2 separate regions of the Homo sapiens genome follow, and region 1 is linked to region 2. Evidence: fine-mapped expression QTL. A gene starts in region 2. The other region holds a variant in brackets. All regions are shown on one strand. Distances are from middle to middle.

Region 1 (2,893 bases), 120 kb before region 2:
GCCCAGCTTCTAACCCCACTGTGCCCTCGGCTGCCCTCCTCAGGGCTGAGCCTGCTGCCTGCCACAGGCCACTCACTCTTCTTTTGCTGTTCATTCCCGAAGGGCTGTGGAGTCCCTGCAGGGCCAGGCGTGTCTGTGCCGCGCAGCCCACTCTCCCCTGGCCATCCAGCCTGTCCAGCTGTCATGCCTTTCACATTAGTGGCTCCATTACATTCCCACCGACTTCCCAGAGTGATCCACAGAGCATGTGCGGAAGAGTCCTGGCTTTGGATGGGCCACCTATTTCCATGCCTCTTTTATCTCTTGTGACTACTTTTAAATTTATCTTTATTTCCTTCGGGACCTGGGGACAGGGTTTGGTCAGCACCTGCAAGGTCTGTAGTTGCCATAGTGCCATAGTTACCATGAGGAACATGATGAGTGCTCTTGGCTTCCCAGGACCAGCCAGGCAAGCGTGCAGAGGAGAGTGTGGGTGCAGCGTCAGATGTTCTGTTCCGGCACGGAGCAGGCACCAGGAAGTGCTGGGCCTGGTGGGCTGGACACCAGGTTGGAGAGGGACCAGACGGCTGAGCGTGAGCCCCCGGCCTGCAGGGACCACAGCCCCTCCTTCGTGCCCCAGCCCTGCCCATGGGGCCCAGCTCCTTCCTCTGATGTGGGCTGGCATCCCCTGTGTCTGGGCTGATCCCCGACCGGTGCCAGCCCTCCCGGCACCCAATTCCTGCGGCTGAGCAGAGCACAGAGGCTGGAGCCGGCCTCCCGCAAGCTGGCTTAGCCAAGTTGGTATGTTTTGACTCCTGCCCCGGGACAGCAGCTGGAGACTTAAGGGTTCCCTCTCACGGGAGCTTCAGCTTCCAGATGCTTAGGTGGGCGCCACCCGCATACCGGCCAGCAGCTGGTTTGTCCCAGCCACGATGAGCAGGGGAGCTATGCTTTTGAGGCAAAATTGCCTTCGCCATTGGTGGATCATCCTGAGCCCCTGGGAGCCGAGAGCACCTGGGGTTGGGAGGGAAAAGCTGCTGTGGCCATCCGCTGGCCTGGCAAAATCACACCCATCTGAGTTAGGGGAGAAAGGGACCTCTGCTGGCTGTTCGGCTATGAAGAGGCCCATGCGGTGCCCTCTCTCCGGGCCCCAGGCTGTGTGGAGACTGGCAGGGGGCAGCTGTGCTGACCCCCTGGACTGGCCATCCCCTGCCCCTCTTGGCCTTTGCACCCAAGAGCAGGATCAGCTGAGCCAGCTGCCCCCTAGAATGGGCACGGTGTAGTTTGGACACTGCCCCTTAGCTCAGCTCCCCTTGGCCCTGAGGTCTCTAGGCTGGGACTGTGTGCCAGGCAGCCACGAGGGGCTGCAGCACAGAGCAGGTGGGAGACCCGGCTGCTAGCTCTGCTCACCTGGCCCTCTACTAGCGGGTTACGGGGGCTTGCTTTCTCCTAATGGGGAGAGACCTTCAAGCCCTACCTGGGCAGAGGGCCAGATCCCAGGACTTGAGCATTGTTGGGGTACAGTCCAGGGTGTGGCTGGCTCCTCTTCAGCTTGTCCAGATAGGGAGGAGGCCATTGGGAGCCAGCAG[G/T]TGTCCCTTGAAGGAGGCCCCTCTGGACTCTTGAGGCCTGGGAGCTGATGGATCTCACTGCCTAATGGTATCAGGCTGTGGTGCTGCAGACAGATGCAGGGAGGCCAGGCAGGCCAGGTGCCAACAGCTCCCCATGAAGGGCTGGTTTCTCCGGATGAAGTCAGTACCAGAGCCACTGGCACTGTGCTGGTGGCCCTGCAGCAGGGCCTGAGGCCTGGGCATGCGGAAGATTCTGGAGTCCCGCGCTTAGCACTCTTTGATGTCAGGGAGCCCCAGCATTGGCAAGTGCCTCTTCCTTTCCCGCGTGCCAGGAACCAGTCTAAGGCCGACTCCAGTTTCCACCGGTGGCACCCCTGCCTTGTCTCCTGTGCCGGCTGTCATCTGACCAGTGTCCGTTTCAGACCTGCCTGCCACCTCCTGCAGAGGCCAGGAGCCCCTCTACGCTGCTGGTGCTTCACATTTGGCCAGTTCTAAGTGGACATTCTTTTTTCTTGAGACAGTCTCACTCTGTCGCCCAGGCTGAAGTGCAGTGGTGTGATCTTGGCTCACTGCAACCGACACCTCCCGGGTTCAAGCAATTCTCATGCCTCACCCTCCCAAGTAGCTGGGATTACGGGTGCATGCCACCACACCCAGCTATTTTTGTATTTTTAATAGAGACAGGGTTTCTTTCTTTTCTTTTCTTTCTTTTTTTTTTTTTGAGACAGAGTTTTGCTCTTGTTGCGCAGGCTGGAGCGCAATGGTGCAATCTTAGCTCACTGCAGCCTCCACCTCCTGGGTTCAAGCGATTCAACCTCCCGAGTAGCTGGGACTATAGGTGTGCACCACTACGCCTAGGTAATTTTGTATTTTTAGTAGAGATGGGGTTTCACCATGTTGGCCAGGCTGGTTTTGAACTCCAGACCTCAGGTGATCCACTTGCCTCGGCCTCCCAAAGTGTTGGGATTATAGGCATGAGCCATCACGCCTGGCTGAGACAGGGTTTCATCATGTTGGCCAGCCTGGTCTCGAACTCATGACCTCAGGTGATTTGCCCACCTCGTCCTCCTACAGTGCTGGGATTACAGGCAGGAGCCACTGCACCCGGTCTCTAAGTGGACATTCTGAGAAACAGTTTAAACACAACCGCTCTAGGTCAAAGCCACTGAAGATAACCTTTCAGCCCCCTCTCTGTTTCCTTCAGGTCGAGTCCCAGACACCAGAAGTCTGAATTTGGAGAAGGCTGGGGTAGATACTAGCCCCGACACTCAGAAGATCCTGGTGGACTCCCGGGAAGCCACCTCTGTGCCCCACATCTACGCCATTGGTGACGTGGTGGAGGTACG
Region 2 (2,874 bases):
CCCTCACAAGCAACTCCCTGCAGGCGGTGGGCAGAAGACAGATGCCAGGAGCCAGCCTCTAGGACAGGCCCGCTCCCTCCCCCACCCGAAGCCTCTGCAGGCTGGAGGGTGCTGCGGGACGTGGGCTCCCGGGTGAAGCCCAGCGCCGACAAGGCCCTTGCCGGGCTGGCCTGAGCCAGCGGCTGGGCTGCCGCTGTCCTCAGGAGGGCCTGTGTGCCTGGGGACAGCAAGGAGGGCCTGGAAAAAAACCACAGAGCTGGAGCAGAGCACAGGCCCAGGTTCCTCAGAAAGGACGCCGGCAGCAGGGAAACAGAAACCACGAGAAGGCTTTGCAAACAGGCCCTGAGCTCCCCTTGGCTGTTCGGACTCCGAGCTGGTGTGTACATTAGACACAGCGCGGCACCCGCCTTTGTCTACCGGTCAAATCGGGTGCATCTGCAAAACTTGTTCCCCTTGTCTCTTGGTCTTTAAAACAAATACAGGCCGGTTGGGAGGTGACGGGCCGCTGGATACAGAGCCAGGCCCCACAACTATAGGGATCTAGGTTGAAGGAAACTGGGTAGCAACTTCCACGCAACAGTGCACGCTGTTTTTAAGGGTAATCCTCTCCTGAAAGTGTCCAGAGAGTTGCCCGGCTGCCGCTCTTTATCTTGCCCGCATAGACTGAACTCCAGAACTGAACCAGAGTTTTCTTGAGGTGGGATTTACTAGGAGTCGGCCGGGCGGTGAGGCCCCCTGGACGCCGCTGCCTGCCCCCAGCCGGGTGCGCCCCAAGCCGGGCCGGTTTCTGGGCCGCGCGGCGTCCTGGGGCTGCGGGGCGGGCGGGCGAGTCCCGCGGGGCTCCTCGCCGTTCCCGTGCGGCCCGCGCCGTCTCCTCCCGCCCCGGCGGAGGATAGGTGTTAGGAGGGGAGCGCCGGGCGGCTGTCGCCGGAGCCGGGACGGCGAACAGCGAAGGAGGCAGCGGGGCCCAGAGGGGCCCGCAGGTGGCCAGGCCGCGCCCCCGACCCGGCTTTCGGCCCCGCTCGCGCGGATCAGGCGGAGGCCCGCAGCCCTGGCGGCAGCACGTGGGGAGGGTCGCGGCGTGGGGAGGGGCGCCCTGACCTGCCGGCCTTGGTGACGATCATCTCGGTGCCCAGCTGGTTGAACTCGTCCCACAGCGCCTTCATCTCTAGCTGCACGCTCACACCGGCCACCTTCGCGTTCTTCTTCACCGGCGCCTTGGCTGCGGCCGCGCAGCTGGCCCCGGGGCCCTCGGGCTCGGCGGCGGCGCTGGTGGCGGCCCCGGCGGCCGGCGCAAACGGGTAGGCGTGCGGCGGCGGCGGCGGGCCCGGGGCGCCGGGGGCGGCGGCGGCGCACGGGTCGTAGCGCGGCGGCGGCGGCGGGGGCTCGCGCGGGCCGTACGGGTCGGCGCCGGGCGACGCGGCGCCCGGGAAGCCCCCCGCGGCCCCCAGGCTGCTCAGGCTGCTGGCCGTGAAGGCTGCAACGTCGCAGAAATGCGAGAGCTGCGTGAGCCACGGGCTGGACACGGCGGAGATCATGACCCGCGGGCCGCCGCCGCCGCCCCCGCCACCAAGCTGAGCGCTGCCCCGCGCCGCGGGCCGAGTGGCGGGCGCCGCGCTGCGTGCGCCCCGGGCCGTGCAGCCCCACACCGCAGGCCGGCCCCGAGGAGGCGCCCCGCCCCGCCCCGCCCGGGGCCCCCCCACCCCCGCGCGGAGACAATGGACTAGATCCCTCCCCCGGCCCTCGCCCCTCCCCCGCCCCTTCCCCCTCCCCGGCCCCCAGCCCGCCCGCCGCGGCTCGCTCGGCCCGGGGCCCCCCGACCGCCCGGACCGGCTCACCGGTGCGCCGGGCCCGTCGGCCGGCCCTCGCTCTGCCGCCCGCCCGCGTGCGTTTCTCCTCTCTCTCTCCCAGACGTTCTTTTCCTAATTTGTTATTTTACCTTTGTCGTCCTCATTTAAATTTTCCCTCCCGATCATCTTTTTTCTTCCCCTATCTCTGTAGTTTCTCTTTATTTCTGTTTTACTTTCCGCCTCTTCCCCTTTTCCTCCATCCTCGCCTTCCTTTTCACTTTATTTTTAATCATTCTTTGTCTTTCTTTTAGTCGGTGCCTTTCCTCTTATTTTTGTATGTCCTTTGTTTTTTATGTTTTTCTTTTTAAAAAAAAAAAAACTAAAGTCTTTCCTTTTTTTCTTTTTTATGACTTCGCTTTCTGTCTTAAATTTTCCCTTCGTTTTCTCTCTTCTCTTTCGCTCTTGCTTTTTATTGCCTTTTCGTGTCCTTCTGTTTCTCCCCTACCTTCTTCTTTGGGTTTTTTGTGTTTTCTCCCCTTTGCTCAATTTCGTCTCCACGGCTTCCTCGAGGCTTTCTCTCCTTCTGTGAAACTCTCCCGCTCTCTCCTCTCTTATTAACTTTCCTCCCCCCTCTCCAGGCTCACGGCCACCTCTGCTCTCCTTCCCAGCCTCACTCGCCCTCTTCCGGGCCTGTGTATACCTGAGTGCCCATCTCCAAGCTGGGCCCCCAGGCTGGTGAGGGGACAGGCTGTGGGCGGGATGCCGGCTCTTCCTCTCTGCCCCAGAATCGCAGCCAGAAGCCTGGAGCCCACGCTACCAAGAGCTGCCTCCACCTACTTTGCACCCGGGCCCCACAGCAGCTGAGGCAGGGGGTCTGGCGGGCGGGCCAGTGTAGACACGGCCTGGAGGCTCACCTTCCATGTCCCTGGTGACGGTGCTGAAGTGCATCCCTGCCGGGGATCCTGGCAGCCAGCGAAGCTTCACCCGGTCGGAGGACCCTGAGCCCTGGTGGGCGGTGCGCTCCGCCGCCTCCGCTGCAACCAGAGAGGCGATGCTGAACGCACTGGCTCGGGGAGACAGCGGG

Evidence for each region. PIP is the estimated chance that this variant, and not a neighbour inherited with it, causes the effect.
Region 1: its variant is the best candidate, but not a certain one, in a credible set for the expression of TBX1 in skeletal muscle (GTEx, PIP 0.64).

The regions. Positions count from the first base shown.
Region 1 is chr22:19,883,320-19,886,212 of GRCh38, reverse strand. TXNRD2 (thioredoxin reductase 2) reads left to right here. Exons shown (of 18, transcript NM_006440.5): 12 at 2,752-2,888. Among named protein-coding and RNA genes, the nearest start is that of RTL10, 30 kb to the right of the region's middle. The variant G/T (reference allele first, on the strand shown) is at 1,569.
Region 2 is chr22:19,759,508-19,762,381 of GRCh38, reverse strand. TBX1 (T-box transcription factor 1) reads right to left here and starts at 1,604. Exons shown (of 7, transcript NM_001379200.1): 1 at 1,102-1,604. The coding sequence starts at 1,538. RefSeq lists an enhancer at 1-549.